Linked DNA regions of Homo sapiens. The protein of the gene in region 4 purifies or fractionates together with the protein of the main gene of each other region. This does not show direct contact. Each region holds a gene or a part of one and is shown on either strand. Other genes may lie near its edges.

What was found.
Region 1: the proteins of PCDHA4 (region 4) and UFSP2 purify together in Homo sapiens (affinity purification with mass spectrometry; 2 studies listed by BioGRID and IntAct, with this or other methods). This does not show direct contact.
Region 2: the proteins of PCDHA4 (region 4) and CNNM1 purify together in Homo sapiens (affinity purification with mass spectrometry; 2 studies listed by BioGRID and IntAct, with this or other methods). This does not show direct contact.
Region 3: the proteins of PCDHA4 (region 4) and CLSTN1 purify together in Homo sapiens (affinity purification with mass spectrometry; 2 studies listed by BioGRID and IntAct, with this or other methods). This does not show direct contact.

What each region holds. Positions count from the first base shown.
Region 1 is NC_000004.12:185,401,567-185,409,361, forward strand, and holds part of UFSP2 (ufm1-specific protease 2), read right to left. Parts: exon of another isoform or gene 6,870-7,795; coding exon 6,705-6,869; intron 6,495-6,704; coding exon 6,370-6,494; intron 4,394-6,369; exon of another isoform or gene 4,291-4,393; coding exon 4,214-4,290; intron 2,053-4,213; coding exon 1,928-2,052; intron 1-1,927. UniProt on the Homo sapiens protein: Thiol-dependent isopeptidase that specifically cleaves UFM1, a ubiquitin-like modifier protein, from conjugated proteins, such as CD274/PD-L1, CYB5R3, DDRGK1, MRE11, RPL26/uL24, TRIP4 and RPL26/uL24.
Region 2 is NC_000010.11:99,387,743-99,395,012, reverse strand, and holds the end of CNNM1 (metal transporter CNNM1), read right to left. Parts: intron 7,194-7,270; coding exon 7,010-7,193; intron 6,862-7,009; coding exon 6,712-6,861; intron 4,708-6,711; coding exon 4,606-4,707; intron 3,577-4,605; coding exon 3,497-3,576; 3' UTR 683-3,496; downstream 1-682. UniProt on the Homo sapiens protein: Probable metal transporter.
Region 3 is NC_000001.11:9,750,803-9,758,597, reverse strand, and holds part of CLSTN1 (calsyntenin-1 isoform 1 precursor), read left to right. Parts: intron 1-2,087; coding exon 2,088-2,117; intron 2,118-3,288; coding exon 3,289-3,484; intron 3,485-6,916; coding exon 6,917-7,125; intron 7,126-7,795. UniProt on the Homo sapiens protein: Postsynaptic adhesion molecule that binds to presynaptic neurexins to mediate both excitatory and inhibitory synapse formation.
Region 4 is NC_000005.10:141,005,273-141,012,847, reverse strand, and holds the end of PCDHA4 (protocadherin alpha-4 isoform 1 precursor), read right to left. Parts: intron 3,222-7,575; coding exon 2,911-3,221; 3' UTR 501-2,910; downstream 1-500. Other genes in the region: PCDHAC2 (protocadherin alpha-C2 isoform 1 precursor), read right to left, coding at 2,911-3,221; PCDHAC1 (protocadherin alpha-C1 isoform 1 precursor), read right to left, coding at 2,911-3,221; PCDHA13 (protocadherin alpha-13 isoform 1 precursor), read right to left, coding at 2,911-3,221; PCDHA12 (protocadherin alpha-12 isoform 1 precursor), read right to left, coding at 2,911-3,221; PCDHA11 (protocadherin alpha-11 isoform 1 precursor), read right to left, coding at 2,911-3,221; PCDHA10 (protocadherin alpha-10 isoform 1 precursor), read right to left, coding at 2,911-3,221; PCDHA9 (protocadherin alpha-9 isoform 1 precursor), read right to left, coding at 2,911-3,221; PCDHA8 (protocadherin alpha-8 isoform 1 precursor), read right to left, coding at 2,911-3,221; PCDHA7 (protocadherin alpha-7 isoform 1 precursor), read right to left, coding at 2,911-3,221; PCDHA6 (protocadherin alpha-6 isoform 1 precursor), read right to left, coding at 2,911-3,221; and 4 more. UniProt on the Homo sapiens protein: Calcium-dependent cell-adhesion protein involved in cells self-recognition and non-self discrimination. Thereby, it is involved in the establishment and maintenance of specific neuronal connections in the brain.

The DNA.
Region 1 (7,795 bases), on a different chromosome or scaffold from region 4:
ACTTCAAACAGGAAAGCACCACAAGAAGGCAAAGAGGTCAGGCAGAGATGGAACTCTCCTCTGGCCTCCTGGGTTCCTGGAGTCAAGTGAATCAATAGTTTTAATGGCAGGACCTTGGCTGCACAGTTTCTTGTGTATACAAATAGAGCAAGGAGGTTTCTGCTGTTGAAAAGTTCTATAGAAATAGAACTAGCAAAGATGGAGATTGCAATTCTCAGAGAAAGAAATCAGGGACAATCCCTTACTCTAATTGTTCAGAAACCTTACCTAGATAATGCCATGTAGTGCAGAGCCCCTTGAGTCAACCAGAAAAGAGAAATTTGATGATGAAAATAATTAAGGCTTCTCCCTGCCTTTAAGAAAAAATCGAAATGCCTGGTTCACAAAGACCACCCTTTCTGACTGAGCTTGGTGTGTCCTTCCAGCCTCACCTCTTCGCCTAGCTCTGGACGCACTGATCTACCTGCAGTGCGGCTTTCACTGTTTCTACAAGGCAGGGGCCACCACAGCACCAGCCTCGTAGAAGCACCTGAGATACCATTTTTTTTTTCTCGAGAGTCCTTTTTGCACTCTCCTTCTCTGTCCTACCCTAAAGGTTTTAGCTCCCGAAAAACCTCGTGTAATACTAGTGCTTAGGACAGTGCCTGGCACTTGTTAGGTACTTTAATAAATACTGAATGGAATGAACACCTTGCTACAGAACAAGAATATTGCTACTATATTCAGTAAGATACATGCACCAGTCAAAAAACCTTTTATAGACTTCAAATTCCAAATGCTGTGAAAGAGAAAAGGAAAAAAAAACACTTAAAACTGTAACAACACATTTCTATCCTATTAGTGTTTATACCCTTATCATAAACAAAAGACTTCAGTAAACTGAGGATATAACAGAGTTGGACTACACACATTAAAAACTTTTTTTTGAGCTGGAATTTCACTCCTGTTGCCCAGGCTGGGGTGCAATGGCGCCATCTCAGCTCACTGCAACCTCTGCCTCCCGGGTTCAAGTGATTCCCCTGCCTCAGCCTCCCAAATAGCCAAGATTATAGGCGCCCACCACCACACCTGGCTTATTTTTGCATTTTTAGTAGAGATGGGGTTTCACCATGTTGGCCAGGCTGGTCTCGAATTCCTGATCTCAGGTGATCTGCCCACCTCAGCCTCCCAAAGTGCTGGGATTACAGGTGTGAGCCACCACGCCTGGCTTAAAACTCTTTAACATATTAAAACATTTTATCTTTAGTTTATAGTTTAAAAGGTGGTTATGTATTCTCTGCAATTTCAATGTATTTGGCAGCGAATATAAATGTTACTTAAAATTCAAGTTAATTATGTTTTACAATACTTTCTCCTAAAGACTTGGTACTGAGTTTTCATATGTGAGAATTAGTTGCCTATGAATTAACAAATTTTTACCTCCTTTATCTGCTATTGTAAGTAAGAATACTCTTAAATATGTATCAACTTCAAACCCTTTATAGAATGAGATTAGGTTATATGTAAATGAATTAAAATTAGTCAAGCCTCCATAATGTCTAGCATACTGCTTAGCTATCTTTTGGTTAATTCTAAAATTTTAAAAGTTTATATATTCTGCTCATCTATTTTAAGACATTGATAAACTTTGATACATTTGTTTATGAAAGCTCTAAAATCTCCAAAGGAATATATTTATGAGTGTGTGTCCTATTATTAATTTTAATAGCTGAGAAAGTTTCTATAAACCTAAATTTTGTCTTTTGCAATGTGCTTTGTTCTTGCACATTCCCTATACAGAGACGGCTACTTACAACAGCCTCAGAAGGCCTCCACACAGGGAGATCTCTGCCCTCAGCTTATTGTCTTTCTGTTACCAGCCAGTTTGTGATCCTTCATTTCTAGCTTCTTTGCCTTTTGTCTCAATTTGTGTTAAATGGATACTTACCTTTTCCAAAATAACTTGCAGGTCTTCAGCACCGGTATAATGTGGATCTAGAATCAGAAACTTTATCTGCCCTGTAATCTCATTCCATGCAACTCCTAGTATTGTGTGGGCCAAAACTCCTCCCCCTATAGAAGAAAAAATAGGAAATACGAATGAAGGCATAAACAAATGTCAAATGCCTATTCAATTTAAATAGACAGATTACGGCCGGGCGTGGTGGCTCACACCTGTAATCCCAGCACTTTGGGAGGTGGGTGGATCACGAGGTCAGGAGATGGAGACCATCCTGGCTAATGCAGTGAAACCCTGTCTCTACTAAAAAAATACAAAAAAAATAGCTGGGCTTGGTGGCAGGCGCCTGTAGTCCCAGCTCCTGCTGAGGCAGGAGAATGGCATGAACCTGGGAGACGGAGCTTGCACTGAGCCGAGATCATGCCACCGCACTCCAGCCTGGGCGACACAGCAAGACTCTCAAAAAAAAAAACAAAAAAAAACAACATTACTTTGCTTATTAACTGATCTAAAATAGCATTAAAATGGACTACCCTACACTATAAAAGACACAATGTCAGATATACTCTGAAAGGATAAAATTACATCTTTAACACAAAAGATACAATCATATCTATAATCACATACAATTTATATTCTACATTCACATCCATATAATTACCTAAAATGGATTTAGAAAGGGCCATAAACTCCTCCCAACAGAGTAACAATCTGCTGTAGTGCCTCTCTCAGCAGATGGTCCTGCTGCCTCTGAGTACCTCCAGTGATATAGCACTCCATTCATTAAGTTTTTTTTTTTTTTTTTTTTTTTGAGCTAGAGTCTCACGTCACCCAGGCTGGAGTGCGATAGCGTGACCTCGGCTCACTGCAACCTCTGCCTTCCAGGTTCAAGCAATTCTCCTGCCTCAGCCTCCTGAGTAGCTGAGACTACAGGCGCACACCAGCACACCCAGCGAATTTTTTGTATTTTTTTTTAGTAGAGACGGGGTTTCACTGTTAGCCAGGATGGTCTCGATCTCCTGACCTCGTGATCGACCCACCTTGGCCTCCCAAAGTGCTGGGATTACAGGCGTGAGCCACTGTGCCCAGTCTTTTTTTTTGAGACAGAGTCTTGCTCTGCTACCCAGGCTGGAGTACAGTGGGCAATCCCGGCTCACTGCAACCTCCACCTCACAGCTCAAGCGATTCTCCTGTTTCAGCATCCCAAGTAGTTGGGATTACAGGTGTGTGCCACCACACCCAGCTAAATTTTGTATTTTTAGTAGAGACAGTGTTTTGCCATGTTGGCCAGGCTGGTCTCGAACTCTTGGCCTCAAGTGATCCGCCCGCCTCAGCCTCCCAAAGTGCTGGATTACAGGCATGAGCCACTGTGCCTGGCTAGAAAATGTATTTTAAAACATAAGCTCATACAATCAGGAGTCAGGCGTGAGCTACTGGGCCCGGCCTACTCATTAAGTTCTTTCTGATATTTTGCTGACATCAGCCTACCTCCATTTCTTTTTTTTTTTTTTTTCTTTTGAGACAGTGTCTCACTTTTGTAACCCAGGCTGGAGAGCAGTGGATCTCTTGGCTCACTGCAGCCTCCTGGGCTCAAGCAATCCTCCCACCTCAGTCTCCTGAATAGCTGGCACTATAGGCTCACACTACCATGCCAGCTAATTTGTGTGTTTTTTTTTTTTTGGTAGAGACGCGGTCTGGCCCATGCTGGTCTTGAATTCCTGGATGCAAGCTATCCTCCTGCCTCAGCCTCCCGAAGTGCTAGGATTACAGGTGTGAGCCACTATGCCCAGCTTCTACCTCCATTTCTTACACACTAGTCTCACCTTGCCTTCTGTCATCACAGGACAGGTCTTGTTCTTCAAAGAATTAAGCATCTTTAGATCAGCTAATCCAATCTTCTTATTTTACAAATAAAATCCACAGAGGTAAGTAATTGCAAAATCTCACAAAGCCAGCCCAGTTATGACAGAGTCATGACTTACGAAGCTCAGCTGAGTGACCGTTTCCTCTTTTTAATACTGTTCTCAGCTCTTTAAATGTTTGAACATAGCTACCATTTCTCAGCCTTTACTTCTTCTGGTTATTATAATCTTTTTTGTAACCTTTAAGCCACCTTAGAAATTTTTTTCAATATCCAGAGATCCATACATATGGTGTAAAAGTTAATTTCAAAATTTTTTAAATGACTGATTTTATGCAACATTAAATATTTATATCAATGATAAGTTTTGCATATTACTCACTCTACCAAAAACAGTGTCTGAAACAGCTTACCGATCATAACTGGAGTTCCTTCACTTTGGAAATGATTAGCCAGTTCCCGTCCTTGAGAGGCAATTTCTGAACCTTGGCTAGAAAGAAACCATTTTCTATCAGATGAACTACTTCCAACACTACGGTCAAATAATGAGCTAGGAGACAATGTTTCCTACTTTCTTGTTTTTTCGGGTGTTACTGAAAAAATATATAAATGTAAAAAAATTAAGTGTTAGGGAACTGAGAGCAATTAAACTGTGCAATTTAAAGCAACATAAACTCAAAATACTTAAGGCCACCAAGTGTGCTAGATAAGACGCTAAAAGACCTTGATTTTCTGCTTCTTGAACTGTATAAAGGAGGCCTGGGTTTTTAACATGAAGTTAAAACATCACCTTGGTGCTCAGGGAGTTCTTATGGATGGATTAATCAGAAGAATGAGTGTTAAGTCCTGGGTTCTTGCCTTCTTGCTGGTAGACTTCTTAGTCTGTATTTCCTCATCTTTAAATTGGGACCCAAAACGCTGACCTGTCTACATAACAGAGGAGAGTCTAGGCCTAAAATACATGTCTGTGAAATCAATGTGAAAACTGCAAAATGTTTTCAAGTGCAACATACTATTTTTAGGGAATCTCAGAATTTTTACTTTTGAAAAGAGAAAGATAGATGGGATAATGAAGGGAGGTATTTTTTGGGGGAAGGTGCCCGGTGGTGCTAAACCTTAGCTCTTGCTTAATGAGGAACGTATGTTTTAATGTACCAAAACTGTAACTTTTAAAAAAAGTTCTTCACTACTTAAGTCTGTCATTGTTTTATATTATTATTATTTTTTGAGATGGAGGCTCGCTCTGTTGCCCAGGCTGGAGTGGAGTGGCGCGATCTCAGCTCACTGCAACCTCCGCCTCTCAGGTTCAAGCGATTCTCCTTCCTCAGCCTCCTGAGTAGCTGGGATTACAGACGTGTGCCACCATGCCCGGCTCATTTTTATATTTTTAGTAGAGACAGGGTTTCACCATGTTGGCCAGGCTGGTGTCAAACTGCCAACCTCAGGTGATCCACCCACCTTGGCCTCCCAAAGTGCTGGGATTACAGGCGTGAGCCACTGTGCCCAGCCAGTCTGTCATTTTTTTACCACTGATTTCCATAACCACTGAGGAAAGGATAAAATTACATCTTTAACACATAAAAGATACAATGAGGACGATGTTACTGTAATTAACAATAGAAAATGTATTTTATTTGTTTTTTGGCTTTTCTTTTTTTTTTTTTTTTTTTTTAGAAAATGTATTTTTCTGTTTTTTTTTTTTGAAAGGGAGTCTCGCTTTGTTGCCTGTGCTGGAGTGCAGTGGCATGATCTTGGCTCACTGCAACCTCCACCTCCTGGGTTCAAGCGATTCTCCTGCCTCAGCCTCCCAAGTAGCTGGGATTACAGGCATGCGCCACCATACCCAGCTAATTTTTTTTGTATTTTTAGTAGAGACAGGGTTTTGCTCTGCTGGCCAGGCTGGTCTCAAACTCCTGACCTCAGGGGATCCACCCACCTCGGCCTCCCAAAGTGCTACGATTACAGGCGTGAGCCACTGCACCTGGCTAGAAAATGTATTTTAAAACATAAGCTCATACAATCAGGAGTCAGCTAGTTATGGTCATAGAAAATAATTAATTTATATTTTCTCATTTTAATATTAGAATTATGGTTAAGATCATTGGAAAAGACAAAATGAATACATTATTTGAACACATTACTAGATTATTAACGTTTTAGAAAGAAAAAGAGCAGGAGGTAAACAAAAAGGTCAGTCATAGTTCAACATTTGAGTTTTGCCTTTTAAGACTTTTTAAAAGATTGGAGCATAAAGAAACTGTTAATATAATTTTTATGACTTTACTCAACGTTAATATATTTTTAAGTTTTCCTCTTCTAGGCTAAAATTAGGCCTAAATAATACAAGTATACATTACATCACAAAGTTTATTCATAAAATCAGAGCCTTCCAAAAAAAAATGAAAAAAAATTAAGATTAAAAAATGAGATTTATAAAGCAATGAGTAATAAGGAAGAAGGAAAAGGAATAAAAAGAAATAAGGGAAGATACCATTTTTTCTATTATTTTAATTAAAATGACAGACTGTCACTTTGAAATGATTTATCTAATTTCTTAAAGTGTGCTTACCTGACAAACAGGATTTTTGACGTTATACCGATCAATTGGTTTAGTACCAGCTGCACCTCAATAGATCCAATCCATTGCCGCGATCCGACAAATGTTGCTGGTTTGTCCCCGGCATCGACTAGAGCCTTGATGTATTTAAAAATATAAAACATCCATACACAAGACAGCTATTAAAAACGATGTTTAGGGCATTTTCCCTGATTACCAGTACAAGAATTTTTTTTTCTTCAAAACAGAAATAAGTCTGCACCATGAGGTAACAAAAATTATCAATGGTATATTAAGGGCTAATGAAACATACAGTTGATTATAATTTAAAACGGTATGTTCTGTACCTGCTGAATTTCTCTGTGTGTTGGAATGGACCTCTCTGTGTATCCCTGATGTTTGAACCAAGAGCAGATAGTCTGCAGAGATCGATAAGCACAGCCCCAGCCATTGTCATCTATGCGATCCTGCATATAATGATGATAGCCATATATGCCCTGGACCACATAAATCTATATACAGAGAAGAAACACAGTAAAATATTAACTTAGGATAGAAGTACATATTCTATATATGCTCCCGAATTATGTTTAATGTTCTTAGAGTTAGACTGTTACTTTAGTTCCTTATAAAAATGCCTTCACAGATCTATGGTTTAACATTATACCTTCTTGGCTTTTTATTTGAGGTTCAAAGTCCTTACCACAGGGCCCAGCAGGACCTACCTTCTGGCCTCCTCTCCAATTTCATCTCCTAAACTTTTCCCTATTGCTCCCTCTACTTTCGGTTCCCATATACCAGGGGCAATATGACCTTGGAGCCTCATGGTTCTCTTGGCCTGGAACTCTCTTTTCCCAAATTAATTGTACAGCTTGCACTCTTACTTCACTCAGGTTTCCATTTAGATGTCAAAGGTCTTCCTTGACCATCCAGTCTACAAACGGCCCACTCATTCTCTCACTACCCCACCCCCTGCCTCACCTGTCATCTCTGTCCTCTTTATGTTTTTATTTTTCAAAGTATATCATGACTTGATATACTTTAAATGATACATTACTTATCATTTAAAAAATATCTGCCTACTTACACTAATATGTGAGCTCAGTGAGTACATACACTGTGTCTTATCCATTTTTGGGCCCAAGCTTCTACAACACGCCTGGCACACGGTTAATATAAATGCTGCTGAATAAATGCTGAATGAATGAAGGAAGGAATAAAGGAATGAACAAACAAATGAAGGGTCCATATCATGGGACACAGGAAGAATGTGTCTAAATTTATAAACCTGCTATGATTACAGCCCAAGTATGTTATTTGATGACGCTAAGTTAAGGGTCAAAAAATAAAGATAAATAAATTACTAATATCATATAAATTCTTACTTATAGTGCTAAGAATGTATATGTCTTTTTTTATTAAAGAACTGGGTTTTTGT
Region 2 (7,270 bases), on a different chromosome or scaffold from region 4:
GAGAAGAATCTTAAGAGGTTTTGGCATAGGCCCCTGATCCTCCTGTTTGCTTTGAGAAATGAGTAGTAGGTGTCAGATTTCAGCCTTCCTTCCACACAGGTATTATATGCCCAAACACATCTTCCCACCTGCCTGGCTGTTCCCTCCCTCCAGCATCGGCTTAAAACTGACCAACAGGCCTGGCCCATTCTTGTGTTCCGTTCCCTAGCCTTTGGTTGCAAACTGCCAGAGTCATGCCACTTGGACTCCTTTCTGAAGGTTCTGCAGAAGCGAGCTAGTGTGACCAACATTCTGTCTCAGGGGCTTGTCTGGGTTTAGCCCCCAAGACCCTGAATTTGGACGGCACCCAGCACAGCACCTCACCCATCACATGGGTTCAGCAAATGCCAGCCCTTCTCACTGTCGTCTTAGTTCCTTCCTCGTCTTTATGCATACTGGCTTCTCATTTGGGTTTTACTTCTCATTTCTGGCATTCACTCCTGCAAAATCTTACCATCTGGCCTCCCAAAGTAGTGTGCCAAGGCTTCCCCGTGACCTCACCGCAGCCTCACACCTGGCCCGGAGCGGCATGCCTCTTCAGGCAGGTGGTGCACAGGTGAGATCATCACACGTGGGCATCACTCAACCTGCATCTCAAATGAAGCCACGTCAGAAGATTCCAGGGGCAAGGAAAACAGCCACATTCCAGGAAAGGCATTTTCATTTTATTTAAAAATTATTTACAATTTATTAAGCCTTCATAAATGCTTTATTTTAAAATCTTTTTTTTAAACTTTTTTTTTAACCTGAAGAAAATCTTTGTGGGGTGGGGGTATATAGGGAGGGGAGTGGTGACAGGCTCCATAGGGATTTTGCAAAGGGATGGGTGTAATGCAACAGCAGTGGCTTGAGCCTGGTGGCCTCAGGTGATGAAGACCAGCCAGGCAGGCACCCCGGGGCCAGTGGTCAGCTGGGCAAGAAGCCTGCATGATGGTAGTTCTTGTTCAAAACTCACCATTTATTGGTTTGGGTCTAAGTACCCAACATTGAGGGCTGACACTTCGCCTGTTCCTACCAGGCAAGAGCAGGTGTTGGGACTGGATGACTGTGAAGTTATCTACGAGAAGTCATGCACTGCTGAGCCTCAGGCCAGGCCAGGCAAGGGGTGTGGTGAAGTCAATAATCATTGCTGGAAAAGGCTTCTCTAGCTCCAAAGTCTTTACTTCCACACGCTGTGGCCCTCCTGTCTGCAACACCTGCTCTGGGTTGTTGGGGAAGAGGGGACAAAGTTATGTGGGGGTGTTGGTTGTACAATACTCTAGGGTGTGCCGAGAATTTCTGAGGACTTCCACTTCTTGGTGGGTGCCAGCCTTCCCCATCAATTGATGGACATTTGAAAAGACCACTTATGATTAAAAACCTGTCTCGAACTGCCCAGTATCCACTTCACTCTGCATTGCAGAAACGCTGGGCTGAAAGTTCCACTATTTAAAATAGTAGTGTTTTTTTTTGTTTGTCTGTTTGTTTTAACTCTTTGTAGGTCTGAGACCTTTGAGAACCTTATGAAAGCTTTAATGCTCTGGAAAAAACATACAAGAATAAATACATTAAATACTGACAGTTTTAGGGGTTTCATAGACCCTCTGAAGTCCAACTATGGACCCCCTGGGGTGATGGACCCCAAGTTAAGAACCCCTGAGTTAACAGTTCCTGTGGGTAAGCATTTTCTTTTGAGATGCAGATAACCCAGAGGAATGATCAGTCTCCCTCCTGCCTGTGAATGACTCAATGGGTGTGGGGAGGTGGGAGGGAGGGTTTTGGAGGAAGGGGAGGGAAGCTGGATGGTATACTACGGGGAAAGGTTTGGGAATGGTTTGGAGATTTAGCAGACAGCACTCGATCAATGAGTTCAGTGAGTACTTGACTGAGAACATCTAAAGAGTAGGAGACAGATCAGAAAGGGAGATAGTTATTCTGAAGACAAATTTCACTTACTTCCAAGTTTTCCCTAAGGCTGGCTGTGGTTGCTTTTCTTTTCTTTTCTCTTTCTTTCTTTCTTTTTTTTTTTTGCGGGGGGAGACAGAGTCTCGCTCTGTTGCCTAGGATGAAGTGCAGTGGTGTGATCTCAGCTCACTGCAACCTCTGCCTCCCAGGTTCAAGCGATTCTCCTGCCTCAGCCTCCCGAGTAGCTGGGACTACATGCCCAGGAGAGATGGGGTTTCACCATGTTGGCCAGGCTGGTCTCAAACTCCTGACTTCAAGTGATCCACCCGCCTCGGTCTTCCAAACTGTTGGGATTACAGGTGTGAGCCACCGCGCCCGGCTTTGCGGTTGCTTTTCAGAACTGTTTTATTCTTGGAAGCAGGTATGCGCGGTCACTCTGCCATCTGGTGGTTATGCTTGGAATTGCACCTGCCCCAACTTCAGGAGAAAAACCAGAGATCCAGTAAGTTCTTGGAATAAAGTACACTCAGCTGATCTGCTAGGGTGTAGTAAGGGGGTGGGAGAAGGACAAATGCATGAAAAAGAAGAATGATTCTTCAACATTCCTGTGTAACTCCCACTGAAGTCCCATGAGATTATGTATCTTTCTTGGCTGACCTGGGCACTCTTTGGTTTGTCATGGCTAAACTTGCTTTCAGCACTTACAGTTTTTCCATGTAAGTTTTGTTTGTTTTTTGCTTTGATTTGCACTTAAGACCTGAAGTTCCATCTCTGGCTCCCAGTTGGGTCTCTCTGCTCCCTGTTCCTTCTCTTCCAGAGCAGAATTATTGATCGATTGAAGACTGCTGATTGGGAGCCAAAACAGATGTGTCCCTGGTAAAAACAGTGACTTGAGGTTCCATCTCACATTCTTTCCATTCCAGCTGAGACATACTGCCCCAGGCTGCTGGAACCCTTATCTAACAGGAAACCAGTCACTAACAGTTTTCTGTGCTGTAATGTCAATCACGCGCCAACATGGCTGAGTCCCACTTCTTTAAAGCTCTGGGGGAAATTCTTGGTCCATCCCCTGAACTAATCTTCAGACCTCCTACTCCAGCCTCCCATGTGCCTGTCTGCCAATGGCACCTTCTGAGCCAAGCTATGCATGAAATGTGTTAGAAAGTTAACATTTTGTTCTGGAGGAAAGAATGGCAAGTTCCAAGACGATAGGTCTCCTATGGCATCAGGGGACCCAAAGAACAAAGAAGAGCATCAGGGGTCCCAGAGTGGCATTGTCAGCTTGCAGTCAGACATCTCTTTTCCAGTCCCAGACTATGCTGTGGAAAAGACCATTTCTAGCATGTTCTATCAGAGGCACCTCCTTCTGTTATGGCCATGTCAAGGTTCTGAGTCGAACTGGAGGTAACGAGGGAAAATCTGCCAAACTGACAGCTAGGGGTGAAGAGATGGAAGGGAAGGCAGAACATTCTGTCACCTGTGGGAGGCCTTGGGGGAAGCAGATGATGGGAGGGTGGATTCTCCCCCAAAGCTCTGGAATTTCACACACCCAGTGAATGCTGGCTTTGCCCTGTCATGTGATCAGAGGTGTTAAATTGGAGTTGTCCTCAGAGGTTCTCTCTCCTTCTGGTGACCTCTTCCTTTTTTGGCCACCTGAAAAAAACAAGTTGCAAGTATCAGCCTGTAACACTGGAGGAACATTCATAATTGCTTGGCAGTCTGAGTTCTTTTCAAAACAGAAGCAGAAATGGAGACAAAGCCCTTGACAGCTTGGTTAGAACTAACCGGCATTGTATGCTGGTGCTGATATTGGCATATTTACATCTTGAAAGATTAGGACGTACTTTCCACATAAGATGCCATCTCTGAAAAGTCACAAACCCAGGCTGGTGCCTGGAATTGAGACTTCCTGGAGGGGACTGAGTAAAGCCCATGTAACACCTCAGGCCCATGCCTCCTGCGCCCCTTGGGGGCCAGCCCCTCTGACTGCCAGACACCCTCAGAGAGGACCAATCTCATAGACTTTGATGTCCCATGAATCAGGGTTGGTGGCTGTAGCTGCAAGCCATTTCCAGGGACCTGCGTTCTCTAGCTCTGAAGCAACCTCCCTTCTGCAGTGGGGCAGGTGGGCATAATTACATAGTTGTCCTCAAGGATGAGAGAGCAATCTGTTCCCAGGTCTGTTTTTAGGAAGGAATATCTTCACCTTGTTCTCTCCACCATTGACTTCCATCTGTGGAGGAGATTGCTCTCTTTCTATTGAGTCTCCTGGACACCAATTCTTTAAAGGACTAGACAGAAAATATTAGAGGCCTGTGGGCCATATGGTCTCTGTCACAATTACTCGACTCTGACATTGTTGCCATAGATAACAAATGGATCTGTCTGTGATCCAATAAGTCCTTACTTACAAAAACAAGTAAAGGAGGGAGGTCAGAATTGACCTGTGGGCATGGTGTGCAGACTTCTGTCCTAGAGGACAAACAACTGAATGGGACAGATCCCAAAACTATCAAGGGTGCAGTGCTGGCCCAACCCCTTCTGCGGATTTCCACAATTGTACCTCATTAGGGTTTCTAAGAGGAGTCCATGGCTCCTCCCCCAAGAGGAAGATGCTAACATGCTTTTCCTACTAACCATCAGCAGGGTGGCTCTCATTTGGGTGAAGAACTAGCTACTCACTCAAGGTTCTCAGCAGCTTCTTGCCCACGTTTTCCTCAAAATCGCTACTGCAGGGGCTGGTCTCTGTATCCAGGTTGATGTTACAACATTCACTATCTGATGCTGAGAAAGGAAAGGAGAGAACTCAAGTTGTCTCAACCTACACACTCAGGCATCAAGAGAGGGTGATTCTGAGTGATGACATCCCTCAGCAAGTGAAGTTTAAGACGTGAGCCAAGGTGAGGGTGGTGTAACAAGGCAGGGACGCCCAGGGAAGTACAGGGTGTCATTAGTTAGCAAGAGGCATTTTAGTGCCACAAAAGGAACAAAAAGATGGAGAACAGGAGCCGGAATCCAACGATCCATGCAAAGTCAGAAATCATTCCCTCTTCTCAAACACTGTTTGGCAAGAGAGAGGGTTTAGAGAACAATGTGTTCTCCACCCAGTCTATTTGCCAGACTAAAAGCACACGTGAGGATAGGTGGAGGTCTCCTTGGTATATTTGCACAAACCCTGGAAAGCCACAGGGTTCAACAACAATGCCCCTGTCTTCTCCCGCAGGACTCAATGGGAATTCAAAGAGTTACAGAATCTGAGAGCCCAGAAGGGGCCAAGCCTTACCACCAATGCAAATAAAAACCTAAGGCAGAGCGGTGTGTTGGAAATGGCACTGCACTGAAGCCATGAGGCTGAGCCTGCTTCTGATGCAGTTTTTGGACTTGAGCAAGTTATTTCCCTTCTCTAGGCCTCCAGGGTCCTCAAATGTCACAGGACGAGGGTGGACTAGATGATCTCCAAGACCACTCCATCGCCTTCATTCTTATTCCTTTGTTACATTTTCTTGCTATGTGCTTTAGCTACTAGATTTGGTGTTGGGGGCAGAAAAGGAACATCAGTTCTAAATTCAGGTCCTGGAACAGTGACTATGTATGTCCCAGATTTTCTGGGTCAGCCACAAGTTCAAACATATTGTCTTGTTGACTTTAAATTTTTTTTTTTTTTTTTTTTTTTGAGATGGAATCTCACTCTGTCACCCAGGCTAGAGTGCAATGGCGCCATCTCGCCTCACTGCAACCTCAGCTTCCCAGGTTCAAGCGATTCTCCTGCCTCAGCCTTCCGAGTAGCTGGGATTACAGGCACCCACCACCACACCCGGCTAATTTTTGTTTTTTTTAGTAGAGACAGGGTTTCACCATGTTGGTCAGACTGGTCTCGAACCCCTAGCCTTAGGTGATCCGCCTGCCTGGGCCTCCCAAAGTGCTGGGATTACAGGCATGAGCCACCGTGCCCGGCCAACTTTAAAAATCTTGGAGCACTTTTTCAGGTTGTTGCTCTGGACTTGAGAGGTCTTATACTATGGACTGAAGTAGGTCTGACAGGTCGGGTGGGGGAACTGCTGGCTTGGGTGCAGGCATAGGGGGCTACTGAAAGCTTGGGGAATACATCTTAGTGAGGCAAACACAGAAGCTTCTCAAGACTGCTGGGACCCTGGGAGCTCAGAGCAACACCACTGTCAAGGCAGAAGTGTTCAGTGTCTCAGAGGGAGGTGATATGGTCTTAGACCTCAGGAAAAGTCTTATAGGCTACACCTTTGGTCAAAACCACAGCTAGTTAGAATGATGGCTGACATCAGTTTCCTAATCTGTAAGGTAGGCCTAATAATAGCTATGTAACATTTATAAAGCATGGTACTGAACACTGTAATATGCCTTTTATGTATGTTATCTCATTTATACTCAAAGCTACTTTATAAGATAGCTGTCATAATTTATACCTATTAACATAAGGATACTTATCCATTCAGATAAAAAAAACTGAGTCTTAGGTTCAATAACTTGCCTAAAATTGCATAACTCCTAAACGAAGGAGCCAGGGTCTGAATCCAGGCAGAAACCCAACTCCTAATACTGCCCTACACAGTTTTCCTAGGAGAATGAATCAGACAGGGCCTGATGCATGGTAGATGCTCAGTAAATGTTTCCTTTCCCTGGCTGTGTAAGGAGGTCGGAGGTTTAACGCACGGGCTGCGGTCCCAGGGCTCCCCTCAGCCAGCTTTCCCTGGGCCATCCCAGTGCCCAAAGGCAATGATCTCCCTTGCTGCACTGGGCCCAGCTGGCCTCCCTGACCTGCTCTCGTGGGAACGGCTGCAGGAGACAGCGTGAGCTGCTGTGTGCTGTGCTCCTCGAAGTCAGTCATTTCTTCCTGGGTGAAGGCCAGCTCCTCCATCCTCAGGTACACTACCTCGCTGGGGCTTCTCAGCCCGTCTGAGCGGCTGCCTGGGGAGGACAGTGAGTGCATCACCTCTCTGCTTTGGAGAAGACCCAGGGCTCAGGTGGTGTGAGCCCTGGGAAGGGCTAGAAGAGGAAGGCAGGGTCATCCTCACCCCACACCAGCCCAGCCTGCCCGTCTGCCCAGCTGACTTACACGGCAGGCTGTTCCTGTTGTTGAGGAGCGTGATGGCGGGGTCATCCTTAGGGGTCTGGGGTGTGCCCCGGGTTGTGGGGGCCTTAGTGGAGTCCCCGTCTGTGAAGGCCTCCATGTCAGGGGACTGAGGTGAGCTGTCCATGTGGCAGGCAGTGAGTGCGTTCTGATATTGCTGCCGTGTGATCTGGAAGGAAGAGGGCAGGAGCTTAGGAGCAGCTAGGCAGAGACCACCCGGATGCAGCCAGCCTTCCCAGGCTCGGG
Region 3 (7,795 bases), on a different chromosome or scaffold from region 4:
TCACGCCTGTAATCCCAGTACTTTGGGAGGCGGAGGCGGGCGGATCACTTGAGATCAGGAGTTCAAGACCAGCCTGGCCAATATGGTGAAATCCCATTTCTACTAAAAATACAAAAATTAGCGAGGCTTGGTGGCAGGCGCCTGTAATCCCAGCTGCTTGGGAGGCTGAGGCATGAGAATCGCTTGAACCCAGAAAGTGGAGGTTGCAGTGAGCTGAGATGCTACCACTGTACTCCAGCCTGGGCAACAGAGTGAGACTCTGTCTCAAAAAAAGAAAAAGAAGCAAGTCATAAAAACTGCACGTGGGCTGGGCGCAGTGGCTCACGCCTGTAATCCCAGCACTTTGGGAGGCCGAGGCGGGCGGATCACCTGATGCCAGGAGTTCGAGACCAGCCTGACCAACACAGAGAAACCCCATCTCTACTAAAAATACAAAATTAGCCAGGCATGGTGGTGCATGCCTGTAATCCCAGCTACTGAGGAAGCTGAGGCAGGAGAATCGCTTGAACCCGGGAGGCAGAGGTTGCAGTGAGCCGAGATCTTGTTACTCCATCCTGGGCAACAAGAGTGAAACTCCGTTCCCACCCCCCCCCAAAACAAACAAACAAAAAACTGCATGCCATGTGATACCATTTTTAAAACCTTAAAACCAAGCAAAATGAAACAACACTGTTCAGGGAGAATAAATGGTAGCACTATTAGCAAAGCAAGGGAATTCAGGTCGTGTTACCTTTGGGGGAGAGAAGGTGCCACCAGTGAGGGCCCAGTGTGTTGAGGGGCAGCGAAATTCCTGATCTCTTCACATTTCCACTCCTCCATAGTAAAGGGTTTATAAGCAGGATATATATTGACTTGGTAGAACAGAGCTTTCATGTAATGAGAACAGTGACTGTTGTAGCATCCCTACAGTTAGTTTTGAATCTGGTTTCTATTCACATTTAAGCAGATGTTCCATTAGCAGAGGGGTTTATATTTGTTGCCTTGGTTGGGTACTTTGGATTAGAAAAATATTGTCATTTTTTTCAGTTCAAGAACAAAGGGTTAAAACCTTTTGTTCGGCTGGGTGCGGTGGCTCACGCCTGTAATCCCAGCACTTTGGGAGGCCGAGGCGGGTGGATCATGAGGTCAGGAGATCGAGACCATCCTGGCTAACATGGTGAAACCCTGTCTCTACTAAAAATACAAAAAATTAACTGGGCGTGGTGGCGGGCGCCTGTAGTCCCAGCTACTCGGGAGGCTGAGGTAGGAGAATGGCGTGAACCAGGGAGGCGGAGCTTGCAGTGAGCCGAGATCACGCCACTGCACTCCAGTCTGGGCGACTGAGCAAGACTCCATCTCAAAAAAAAAAAAAAACCTTTTGCTCCAAATTTTTGTTTCATTAAATCTACTGATGAGTTGAATGTTACCAGAATCTAGCTGAGAGAATTTAGGTTGGAAATGAACATCTGAAAACTGCAAAATAACAAATAGATGTACTTATTCATGGTTTGTCACTAGAGTGTTCATTAAAAGAAAAATCCTGCCGGGCACGGGGGCTCACTCCTGTAATCCCAGCACTTTGGGAGGCCGAGGTGGGCGGATCACGAGGTCAGGAGATCGAGACCATCCTGGCTAACATGGTGATACCCTGTCTCTACTAAAAATACAAAAAATTATCCGGGCGTGGTGGCGGGCGCCTGTAGTCCCAGCTACTCGGGAGGCTGAGGCAGGAGAATGGTGAACCCAGGAGGCGGAGCTTGCAGTGAGCCGAGATAGCACCACTGCATTCCAGCCTGGGTGACAGAGCGAGACTCTGTCTCAAAAAAAAGAAAAATCCTAATGACCCCTGAGGGTGTTAGGACACTTCATGTAGGAGTATTTCATCCCTAAATTAATAACTTCAGAATTATGCAGTAGTTCATGGTAAGTTGGATTCAAAGTGACATTTTGTTCCTGAAGATTAGGTTTTGCTGTAGCAATCGTAGAAGCCGGTCGCTGAGCTTGGTGTGGAAATGTGTAATATGTGCACCTTTGACTTTTTTCCTTAGTGTATTCCATCTTCATTCTTTCCTGTATTACTGACATGGGCTTATCTTTTCTCCCTTTAGAGAGTTTTGAGGTGACAGTCACCAAAGAAGGTGATAAAGGGTTCTTTCTTCCCCTCTTATGAATATTAACCCACTAACTTTGTTTATAAAATTGGGAATCAGCCCTTAAACAGGAGAAACTGTCATGCTCTTTTATCCTTATTTATTCTCCTACTTTGTTTCTATTTTAAAGTATATTGATGGAAATTGTATGTAACCAGACCCTTGGTTAGAAATATCTGGAAATCAGACATCCATTTGAACTGTATGGATAACACTGTACATTTTTGTTTAATAGAACTTCAGAGATTTGCTTTATAACAATTTTCTATTAGTTGGAATTGTGGAAGGAGTGCAGTCTTATTTTCATGTGAAATACATTTTGTGGAGTTTCACATCGACATCAAAACATTTATACTGTTCTCCCATGGACAAGAATGGAAACATAGATTTTTAACTCCTAATTAAGTTGTGAGCCAATTTAGATGTAGAGAAGTTCCCAGGCTGGTGTCTTTTTCAGGTTTGATAGGATAAAGTCCGAAACAAAGGCAAGTCTAGCCAGTCCCTCCCATAATAGAAACTGTGTCTGAATCGTAGATGATAAAATAGCTGTTGAAATGGATGCCTGACGAGTCGGTATTTCTACCTTTCTCATTGAGTAGTTTGTTTTGATTCCCTAATTTTAGCCAGGCTCATTGCACAGGAAGACTTGTTTCCTTTGATTTTTTTTTTTGACAGAATTTCTGTAATTACGGTGCTGATCCTATATCTCACGCTTCCTCCTCTCTCAACACATAACTGCGTTTTAGCTTCTCTCTGGTCCAAATCAAACTGGCTGCCAGCCCTCCCAGGAGCTGGGGCAGCGCTGGTGTTCTCAGGCCTGGCTGTGTGCTAATGAGACTCCTTTTACCCTCGAGCTATCTAAGTGCTCCTGTGGAATGCCTGTCTATATTTTCTTCTCTCTCTCTTTTGTATTCCTGCATGAATGGATGCAAAGTAAACAAGTTGCTTGGAAAGCCAGAATCTGCTTCATCTTACTAAAGCCCGAGAACTTCCCCATGTTTAAAACACAGTGCCCCTGCTTTGTCCACGGACCCTCCAAACCCCTGGCTGCCAAATTGTTGTCATTTATTTTCTTTGGGGGTGGAGATGGGGGGAGGAGGGCAAGGTGCAGAAGATCTATGTGGTAGGAATTCTTACCTGTTCTGCTTTGACTCCCTAGGTGAGATTTGTGGATTTAAAATTCACGGGCAGAATGTCCCCTTTGATGCAGTGGTAGTGGATAAATCCACTGGTGAGGGAGTCATTCGCTCCAAAGAGAAACTGGACTGTGAGCTGCAGAAAGACTATTCATTCACCATCCAGGCCTATGATTGTGGGAAGGGACCTGATGGCACCAACGTGAAAAAGTCTCATAAGTAAGTAAGCTGGACAAAGAGTGAACATAACCCACCGAGTAAACGTGTGTGCGCAGAACGAAAATAGTAGTGACTATTGCCTGCTCCCCAAGACTGTTTTTGAAATAGGCAGAAGATAGTTCTCAAGTGTCTACAATTAGATTGTAAACACTTGGAGGGCAGGAATCATGTCTCTCTACCCTTGTATACAGTTTCTAGCAAGAGCCTTGCTCACATTAGGCATATTAGGTTTTTTGGGGTTGTTTTTGTTTGTTTTTTGAGATGGAGTTTTGCTCTTGTTGCCCAGGCTGGAGTGCAATGGCATGATCTTGGCTCGCCGCAACCTCCGCCTCCTGGGTTCAAGCGATTCTCCTGCCTCAACCTCCCACATAGCTGGGATTACAGGCATGCGCCACCACGCTCAGCTAATTTTGTATTTTTAGTAGAGATGGGGATTCTCCATGTTGGTCAGGCTGGTCTCAAACTCCCGACCTCAGGTGATCCGCCTGCCTGGGCCTCCTAAAGTGCTGGGATTATAGGCGTGAGCCGTACCTGGCCTTTTTGTGTTTTGTTTTTGAGATGGAGTTTCGCTGTTTCACCCAAGCTGGAGTGTAGTGGCACGATCTTGGCTCATTGGAACCTCCGCCTTCCGGTTTCAAGTGATTTTTCTGCCTCAGCCTCCCGAGTAGCTGGGATTACAGGTGCCTGCCACCACGCCTGGCTAATTTTTGTATTTTTAGTAGAGACGGGTTTCACCATGTTGGCCAGGCTGGTATCAAACTCCTGACCCCATCATTCACCTGCCTCGGCCTCCCAAAGTGCTAGGATTACAGGCGTGAGCCACCACACCCGGCCTAGGTTTTTAATAAATGAATGAGTGAATAATTTTATCACACCAAATACTCTATTAAAGAAGTAAAGGCCCTACATTAAAAATTGAAAAAGTCTGCTTCTCCCTTAGGAAGGTTATTTTGTTGTCATATTTATCTTTTGCTGTAATTCCTAAGGGCATAAACTTAATCATTGTTGGCCAGGTGCAGTGGCTCACACCTATAATCCCAGCACTTTGGGAGGCTGAGGTGGGAAGATTGCTTGAGCCTAGGAGTTTGAGAGCAGCCTAGACAATGTAGGAGATGCCATCTCTACAAAACATAAACAGCCAGGTATGGTGGCACATGCCTGTGGTCTCAGCTACTTGGGAGGCTAAGGCGGGAGGATTGCTTGAGCCCGAGAGGTTGAGGCTGCAGTGAGCCATGATTGTGCCACTGTACTCCAGTCTGAGTGTCAGAATGAGACCCTGTCCCTAAAAAACAATAACAACAAAAATTGGCCAGGCACGGTGGCTCACGCCTGTAATCCCAGCACTTTGGGAGGCCGAGGCAGGCAGATCACCTGAGGTGATTTTCACCTGAGGTCAGGAGTTCATGACCAGCCTGGCCAACATGGAGAAACCCTGTCTCTACTAAAAATACAAAATTAACCAGGCATGGTGGCACGCGCCTGTAGTCCCTGCTTCTCGGGAGGCTGAGGCAGGAGAATCACTTGAACCTGGGAGGTGGAGGTTGCACTGAGCCAAGATCACATCATTGCACTCCAGCCTGGGCAAAAAGAATGAAACTCCGTCTCAAAAAAAAAAAAAAATTAGTCACTGCTGGTGGAAGTAGGCTGGCTCGCTGCCACAATCCTGAGTGTGTTGCTGCACCTCCTGCCAGTTAGGAACTGCAGTTGTAGCAGAGAGGGCTTTGGACAAGACAACATAGAACAGGGGTCGCCATACCTCAGGACGTGGGCCAGTACTGGTCCGTGGCCTGTTAGGAACCAGGCCACACAGCAGGAGGTCAACAGCATGTGAGCGAGTGAGCATTTCTGCCCGAGCTCCACCTCCTGTCACATCAGCAGCGGTATCAGATTCTCACAGGAGCGCGAACCCTGTTGTGAACTGAGCATGCCAGGGATCTAGGTTGTGCGCTCCTTATGAGAATCGACTGCCTGATGATCTGAGGTGGGGCATTTTCATCCCAAAACCATCCTCCCACCCCCATCTGTGGAGAAATTGCCTTCCATGAAATCAGTCCTTGGTGCCAAAAAGGCTGGGGACTGCTGGTGTTCTCAAGTCCAGTGTCTTCTACAATTAGATTGTAAGCTCTAGTCTTTTCTAGAGCTCTAGTCTTTTCTCCACCACTTGCTAGCCCTTTGGCATTGTGCAAATTTAATTTTGTTGAGTCTGTTTCTTTTTCTTTTGTTTTATTTATTTATTTATTTACTTATTTTTTGAGGCAGAGTCTCGCTCTGTCACCCAGGCTGGAGTGCGGTGGCACAATCTCGGCTCACTGCAACCTCCACCTCCAGGGTTCAAGCGATTCTCGTGCCTCAGCCTCCCAAGCAGCTGGGATTACAGGCACGCTCCACCACACCTGGCTAATTTTTGTATTTTTGGTAGAGACGGAGTTTCACCATGTTGGCCAGGATGGTCTTTAACTCTGACCTCTGGTGACCCTCCTGCCTCAGCCTCCCAAAGTGCTGGGATAGGTGTGAGCCACCACACCCGGCCCTGAGTCTCAGTTTCTACTTAGCACATCTACTAAAGAAGGGTATGTGGGCGAGATGGTGTCACATAACCCATTGTGAGGGTCAGACCGATGGCACTGGGATGAGGAGGCTCATGGTGAGCAGAAGGTGCAGTGCCCCAGTGAGTCTCTTCTCTTTTTCCACAGTGTAATGTTATTGTTTCCCTTGAAAAGGTCAGATTTTGACCAAAGTCCTTGACTGATTCAGAAGCATGCCCTGACCATTAGCCCTTGAAACCTACAGTTTTTTTTATTTGTAGCCAGGTCTGATGACACCCTAATTTTCTTGATAACTGAGCTGGGGTATTGGCAGGTGGCAACGGCCTGCCTCTCCTGAACTCTTCCATTTGTTGAATCAGGACCAGGTGATGCCATGGACTCCAGCCTATTCCCTAGAAGTAGGACAGAATTCGTTTGAACTCTCAGAATCAAACCATTTCATGCTTTCTCTGTTTCATACCCCTTCTTCCCTTGGCTCTATTTTTTTTCTGGATTTTGCTACAAAATATGTTTCAACTTTATAATTGGAGAGCAAACAGACGTCTGGTATTGTTTATCTCCCTTCTGCCTGTCTTGTCCCATATTGTCAAAAAAAAACACCCAAGTCTCTTTTATTTTAGATGATTGGTTTTTTGCTTTATTCTTAGGATATGGAAGAATCGACCCAAATCCCTCTTTTAACTTTCTGTTATCTCCACACTTGAATGAAAAGCAGTGAATAGCTTGTTTAATTTTTGACTTCATCATATGAATTTCATGAAACAAGGTATCAGAAACAGGAAATTTTAAAGTAGGGCAGAATTGGGTAAACACACATACACACTCTCTGTCTCTCTCTCACACTGAAAACAAGCAGAAAAATATTTTTCTCCCTCCCTTTGTCCAGAGCAACTGTTCATATTCAGGTGAACGACGTGAATGAGTACGCGCCCGTGTTCAAGGAGAAGTCCTACAAAGCCACGGTCATCGAGGGGAAGCAGTACGACAGCATTTTGAGGGTGGAGGCCGTGGATGCCGACTGCTCCCCTCAGTTCAGCCAGATTTGCAGCTACGAAATCATCACTCCAGACGTGCCCTTTACTGTTGACAAAGATGGTAAGAATCGAGGAGCCGGCTTTTCAGCTAGGTAGACAGTCCCTGCTAACCCCACTGACTTTACACCCCAGCTTCTGTGCTTCGTCAGAACTTCATGGAACTCACAAGTTGGAGACCTAACCTGGTGTGTGTTTGCTTTTAATTGTAAAAACATTTAAGTTTCTACTTTGTTCCCTGACAACTTCTTCTCTGGAACCTGTAAGTCCTGTGTTCTCTTGTGGGGCTCACCTCTTTTTTGCTTTCCCACCAAAATCAAATAAAAATCCTCCTACCTGACATGGCTTTGTTTTTTTAATCTTCTTAACTTTCAGTCCACATGCATCTGAATGAGACTGACCTTTACATTTAGTTTGTCTCATTTTCTGTTCTCCATTAAGTTTTTTGTTTTTGTTTTTGTGGTTTTTTTTTGAGACAGTTTCTCACTCTGTTCCCCAGGCTGGAGTACAGTGGTGCGATCTCAGCTCACTGCAACCTCTGCCTCCCGGGTTCAAGTGATTCTCCTACCTTAGCCTCTCGAGTAGCTGGGATTACAGGTGCCCACCACCACGCCCAGCTAATTTTTTGTTGTTGTTGTTTGTATTTTTAGTAGAGATAGGGTTTCACCATGTTGGCCAGACTGGTCTTGAACTCCTGACCTCAGGTGATCCGCCCACCTTGGCCTCCCAAAGTG
Region 4 (7,575 bases):
ATAAAAGTTATTTCTTTTTGTACAGATGGGATCTCGCTATGCTGCCCAGGCTGATCTTGAACTCCTGGCCTCAAGCCATCCTCTGGCCTTGGCCTTCCAAAGTTCTGAGATTACAGGCAAGAGCCACTATCCCTGACCTAAAAGTTCATTTCTTTGGGGTGTCACTTGGCTTTCCAATTGTAGAGAGGTGCAAGGGCTAAACAAGTAATGAAAAAGATGCCTAGAAGGGCTCTTGTGATAAAAATGGGTTTGTTGCAATTCTTATTAGAGAAAACTGAAATAGTGTAACTACAAAGTGACGCAGCAACCTCCTGGCTGCCCATTCTAATGATATGAAGTTTGAATCTTGATTCCACTGGGGCTTTTGCCTTAGTAATGGACATAAAAGCTAACGTGATAAGAGAGTGTTACAGTGAGTTTCATACTGCAGCAATCTTCTTCAGTATTAATTGCTTATCAGTGTTCTATTTCCTCCTATTCTTAGAAATGACCACCATTTCTTTCATACCACCATTTTCATTTATTAGCAATAACAGAGGAAATACCAATAGCACCAATTCAAAATGAATCCACATGACGTGTTTTATCCTTACAGCTGTAATAACTAGTAACTAACATGGATTGGAAAGCACTTCGCAAATGTAAAAAGTGCTGTACAGATACATTATAATTATCATCATTAATAAATTAGCCCGATTCTCCTAGTTCAAAAGGCACGTAAGGTCAGATACATGGGCTTCAGTGGGGCAAAATGATCACAACCTACAATGTAGCAATGGTTCACATGTGTTGGTAACAAGTTTTACCCCATGCAATCCTGCAGAGCTGAAGTTACACACCCTTCAAAATATGGGAGAATGAAGCTAAAAGTAGACAAGACAGTTTTTTTTTAAATTTAATGCTTTTTTTAAATAACAGACTCCTACCTCTTTTATATTAATGCCTAAATAGATAATATAATTAATCAAACTTCTAAATTGTACATTATAACAAAATTAAAATGTCTTATTTAAGGTGACAGCAAATTTTGTTACTTTCTATGAGCTGATATTTCAGATACCATTAGAATTTCAAAGCATTCTGCAACTTCAAAGAGGTCAGATTGGTAAAATTTGTGCTTGCACACCCTCATGGAATATTGTCAGTATTCATTCCAAAATTGTTACTAGAACAAAACAGCTTTATCCATTCCCTTGCCAGCAGAAGTCTTGGCACGAGATGGCTCTTGGCTGGACCATAAATAAAATTCCTTGAATCACCAGTATCTTGATTTAAGAAAGAAATTTTACTGTGTCTTTCATACACAAAAGCTGATTAACAATGGTTAAAAAAACACTACTCCACTTTTTCACAGGTGTACAAAAGGAAATATAATGGAATTACATTCAACAATAAAGCTTAAAGTTCACTCTAGGTAATAGTTGCATTAACATTCACATACACAAGCACAGAGTAAGTATATTTCAGGAGTCTTAGCATAGCATACAGCATACATATGGGAGATTGATTTCAGGTAACATCATAGGTGTTAGTAAGATTAGCAATTCAGAGTGTTATAGAAAAGGAAAACTAAACCAAAGAGAAGGTGTAGGCTAGCACACCAAGACAAGTCACAGAATTAGTAGATTGAAAAATCTGCTCACTGTATGAGAAAACAATATTTTTCTTCAATTTTTGGGTCTTGATATATAGTTGGTTAGAGAAGGTTGTGTATCAAAGTGCACATAATTGTTTCTTAGAAAAGAGAGAGAGAGAGAGAAAGAGAGATCATTTTATTTAGTAATACATGCAAGAGGCAGCCCCAGAGTGACCTGAAAGAGTAAAGCTGTGATTGGCAGGTGGCCGATATAATACAGATGTTTCAGGCAATTCTCTTAAAGCACTTCTGTAGCAGCAATGATCATTTAAATGGCTGTAGACTGAATTCTCTTTTGAGGAGAGTTTAGGGGAATTGTATTCATATTTCTCTTTAAAGATTTATAGCTATAGACTTTCTCTTTTTTTAAATAAATCTATGAAACAACAAACAGCGAAAGGTGAGGTGTCGGGGTTTTCTTTTGCTTTTGCATAAGTATTGGAAAAGGATCTGGCCTTTTCATAAACATTGTGTGCAAAAGAATTTTTAATAAAGTGAGCACAGGACATGTATAGGAAACACATCAGATCTGCTTCTGTTTCCCAGGGTGGTTCTCTGTTAAAACACTGAACTGTTGGCTTGCAGGTATGATGCAGATTTTAGGTATAATGACGTCACAGCCAACAGACTTTAGGGTCTCCTAAAGCCTTGTCAGTGGGGGTAGTTTTGTCTCCTAGAGGGTGGCTGCCACCTCTTGAGTTGTAAGATTTAGAAAGTCTGGTCCCTTTAAGTTTACACTTCCCCTCCATACTGATAACTTCCGCTGTTTATTTGTCTTTGTTTTCTTGCCTTCCTTGTACCAATTAGTCTAAGCTGGCTCGTCTCAGCCAATATCTGGCACTCGCATACCCGCGGTAGCCACACATACCCAGTGGCCACAAACTCCCAAGCTGCTCAATCTCAAAACTTTTCAGCCTGCCCTGCAAGTGTCATCAAGACAGGATCCCCGGAGCACAGGGCAGAGAGTCCAACCTCTCACTGGCGGGGCTGGGAAGCCTCTCCTTTGCGGCGGAGGAGAAAGGAAACTTGGGTCTGCTTTTTAGGTTCTGAAAACAAGCCAGAGTGGAGAGAAAGAGTTAACACCAGACTTAGTAAAGCTTTTACGACAAAACCTGTTAAATGCGTTCTAGACAGACACAGGGAACTTTCTGCAGATTTCTGAGGTCTCTAAGAGGGCTCATGTAGATAGGAAAAAGGAGCAGGGAATTGCTACATGGGAGAGATTTGCCATTATTACAAAAACTGGCTAAGTGGCTTGTTTCCATTTGAGGACCTCACTGGTCACTGTTGTCAGTCGTGCTGTTCCCTTTCTCTTTTTTCTCCTGGGTCTTGTTACCCTTCTTCTTTTTCTTCTTTTTCTTGGTCTCCTCCTTTTTGCCGAAGGTTATGAAGTCACTTTTGTCAATTTGGCTGTTAGTAGGCTCCTGCCGGATGGAGATGATTGCAGGAGATCCTGGGATAATGAATTTGTCGGGCAACTCACCGGGACCGGATTGTTTGGGGTTGCCTGGTCCGTATTTAAAGGTCCAGCTGTTGCTGTTGACACCCGCACCGACTGGAGGGGACACTTCTCCTGCCTCTGGTTCTGAAAGACAAAACATTACAAATCATTAACAGGGTCAACACATGCTCTTGATGCCACACTGCTGGTAGAGTACAGGAGTACTGCATAGGCAGGCTGAACCTCCCCAGAAAAATCACGAGTTGTTTGTTCAAGTCTGAGGGCAAGGCAAGTGTTTACTTATTTATTTATTTGTTTAATTTTTTTGAGACAGGATTTCCCTCTGTCACCCAGGCTGAAATGCAGTCACTGCAGCCTCGACCTCCTGTGCTCAATCAATCCTCCCATCTTAGCCTCCCAAGTAGCTGGAACTACAGGCACAAGCTCCCATGCCAGGCTAGCTTTTTAAAAAAAATTTTATAGAAATGGGATCTCACTATGTTGCCCAGGCTGGTCTCAAACACTGAAGCTCAAGAGATCCTCCCACCTTGGCCTCCCAAAGTGTTGGAATCATAGACATGAGCTACCACACCCAGCCAAGGCCAGTATTTACAGACAAGCAAGAGGGCAGGTTTTTTCACCAGGATACCAAGAATCTAGTTTCATAGTAACATATGTTTGGTTCTTTGTGAAGAATTTCCTAAAGAATACAGTTGTGATTATCTTGACTGGGAACGGGATGGGAAATACAGAGCCTAAAGGCAAAATATGCTCCTTTTAGTGTCTAGATTAAACTTTGGCTATAAATGTATTAGGATGTCTATTTTGTCCAAAACAAGAAAAATTAGCTGAATAAATTATTTGATCTTAATTTTATTGTAATAACATTGAAGGGTGGTGGGATGCAGCATGGAAGAGATGGGAATACACAGCGTAAGAGGATGGAATCCTGTTGTAAATTGAGCCTATTTGTTTAGATAAAACACTGGGAGCCAATTTTACTTTCCAAGCCAAATTCCTTCCCTCAGTGTGCTCACAGTCTAGTTGGACATACACTCAAGCAACTAGAAACCAACTTAATACATGCAATAACTAAAGTATATGTAAAGTATTGTGGGACTCCAGAAGAAGAAATTGTTAATTATACTTGAGAAAGTTAATGGGGTTCCAGAGGAGGTGAAATCTGCCCTGAGTCTTGGGAAAATGATTATGCATCCACAGGAGTTTTCAATAAAAGACATTCCCAAGAGTCTGATTGGAAGACACACCATAAAGTATACCAGTGACTTCTAGAAGAGTAGAAGTCAGAGCTGGAGAGGAAGGGTAATGGTCTGTCTGGGCAAAGTGATCCCAGTGGCCATGACATTGGAACTCTGACATCATAGCAATGTTTATGTATCTAACACTGCTCCTTTGGTTGACACGTGAAAAGCTCCATCAAATAAACTGTTTATGTTCAATTACAGTTTAGGGTTGGGTACAACTGCTATTTCAATTTCCTATTACTTCTCAGTCTCCTCTAATTTGGTGTCCCTGAGCAGTAATTTTCTAACATAACTCATGTCAAGTTCATTATATTACTTCCACAATCAATGGTCACATTTTAGTCCTCATCTTATCAAACCTCTCAGCAGCATTTGTCATCCCCTTCTTGAAACACTTATTCTCATGAGTTCTTTGTCATGTAGAATAACCCCAATAAGTTCTTAGATGGACTGGACCCCTGTTACAAAAGGCAGATTAACAAGAAAAAAAAGGAAACAGAAGTTTATTAACATGTACATTTCATATATACATGACAGACACCCAGAGAATGAGCAGTTCTCAAAAAGGTGGCTTAGAATTCCAGCTTATATAGCATCTTCAACAAAGAACAATAAATTTTTAAAGAAGTGTAAGACAAAGGAAAAGACCTTTAAGGACTTTGAGTCTCTAATGGGTAGCTACTTGGGGGAAGGCAAATGAATGGCAGATAAAGGCTAATTTGTAAAGCAGTACCATTTCCAGGCCAATAAGAGTCCAAAGTTATCTTCAGTGGTTAACCTTTGTTCTCCCTGGTGGTGGGAGGCAGAGGAGGGAGGTGGAAGTAGGATAACTTTTGTCTTTGTAAATTTATGGTTTTTTAGGCAAATACAGGGAGGGCAGAAGACCTCTCCTATATCTGCTTCTTTTATTATTATCATGATTATTATTTTTTAAATTTGAGATAGAGCCTTGCTCTGTTGCCCAAGCTGGAGTGCAGTGGCGAGATATCAGCTCACTGCAGTCTCTGCCTCCTAGGTCCAAGTAATTCTCGTGCCTCAGCCTCCTGAGTAGCTGGGACTACAGGCACATGCCACCATGCCTGGCTAATTTTTTTTTTTTTTTTTTTTTTTGTATTTTAGTAGAGATGGTGTTCCATCATGTTGCCCAGGCTGGTCTCGAACTCCTGAGCTCAGGCAATCTGTCCACTTTAGCCTCCCAAAATGCTAAGATTACAGGCATGAGCCCACTGCACCCAGCCTGTATCTGCTTCTTTTAACTTGCCTTCAGCTCAACAATCCTTCTTATTTTGGGACAGCATATTCTGGCCCCCACCATCAAAACATTCTCCTGACCTTTCTCTCTGACTGTTCTTTGACAGTTTCCTTTGTCAGTCTCCTCATCTGTGTGTTGAAGCTTCCTTGGGTTTGGCCCTAGACTCTCTTCTCTATTTTCTCTTCACTCTCTCCTTTTGGGATCTCAGCCATATCCATAGATATAAATACCATATGAATAAGCTGATGAGATGCAGACTTATATTTTAAGCCCACATCTCTCTGTGCTCCAATCTCATGTATAACTGCCTATCTGGTATCCCCAGTTGGAAATCTCATGGGCATCCCAAACTGAAGAAATCTGAAATCAAACTCTTGATTCCTCGAATCTATTCCTTTCTAAATCTTTCCAGTTTCAGTAAATTACACCCCATTTACCCCATTTCTCAAGCCAGAAAGTTCAAAGCTAATTATTCATTTTTCTCTATTCTATTCTTCATTCTCCATTTATAATACATCATCAAGACCTGTCATTTCTGCCTCCTAAATATATCTTGACTCTGTCCTCTTCTCCCAATTTTCACTGCCACCACTCTTTCAGGACACCATCATCTCTTATATGAATTGCAGCAATAGTCTCCTTATTCAGTCTGCTTCCACTTTTGCTTCTCTCCAACCCTCCACACAGTAGCCAGAGTCATCTTTATTTCTTAATGTCTCTCTTTAAAAACTGATGTATAACAGCCAGGCGCGGTGGCTCACACATGTAATCCCAGCACTTTGGGAGGCCGAGACAGGCAGATCTCGAGGTCAGGAGATTGAGACCATCCTGGCTAACACAGTGAAACCGCGTCTCTACTAAAAAATAGAAAAAACTTAGCCGGGCGTGGTGGTGGGCGCCTATAGTCCCAGCTACTCAGGAGGCTGAGGCAGGAGAATGGCATGAACCCGGGAAGTGGAGCTTGCAGTGAGCTGAGATCGTGCCACTGCAGTCCAGCCTGGGCAACAGAGCAAGACTCCATCTAAAAATAAAAAATTTAAAAAAAAATGAGGCATAACATACATATAGCAAACTCTTTTAAAAATATAAATCAGATTATATCACTCCTCTGCTTAAGCTTTCTACTGCCTTGAGAAAAAAAAAAAAAACTCCTTACCATGATACATAAGTCCCTTCAATAATCTGATTTTTATTTCTTCTCCACTCTCATCTACAAATCTCCCTCTTACTATTATACTCCAACCATACAGGCCTTCTTTCAGATCCTCAAACACTCTTTGGAATTGTTTTTTTATTGTTGTTTGTTAGAGATAGGTTCTCACTCTGTCAACCAGGCTGAAGTGCAGTGGTGCAATCATTGCTTGATGTAACCTCAAACTCCTGGACTCAATCGACCCTCCTGTCTCAGCCTCCCAAGTGGCTGGGACTACAGGCCACCATACCTGGCTCCTTGGAGTTGTTTTTGCCTCAGGATCTTTACACATCTGGTTTGCTTTTGTCTTGAATGATTTCTCATCCATTCTTTTTTTTTTTTTTTTTTTTTTTTTTTTTTGAGACGGAGTTTCGCTCTGTCGCCCAGGCTGGAGTGCAGTGGCGCGATCTCGACTCACTGCAAGCTCCGCCTCCCGGGTTCACGCCATTCTCCTGCCTCAGCCTCCTGTGTAGCTGGGACTACAGGCACGCGCCACCATGCCCGGCTAATTTTTGTATTTTTAGTAGAGACGGGGTTTCACCGTGTTAGCCAGGATGGTCTCGATCTCCTGACCTCATGATCCGCCCGTCTCGGCCTCCCAAAGTGCTGGGATTACAGGCGTGAGCCTCTCATCCATTCTTAGCATGACTCCTCACTCTTCAAGTCTGTATTAAATGTAACCTCCTTGGAAAGGCATTCTATGACATTCCTAGCCAAGCAGCACCCCCTTGGCCTATTATTCTCTACCACTGTAAGATTCACAAAGGCAAAAAATGTATCTGTTTATTC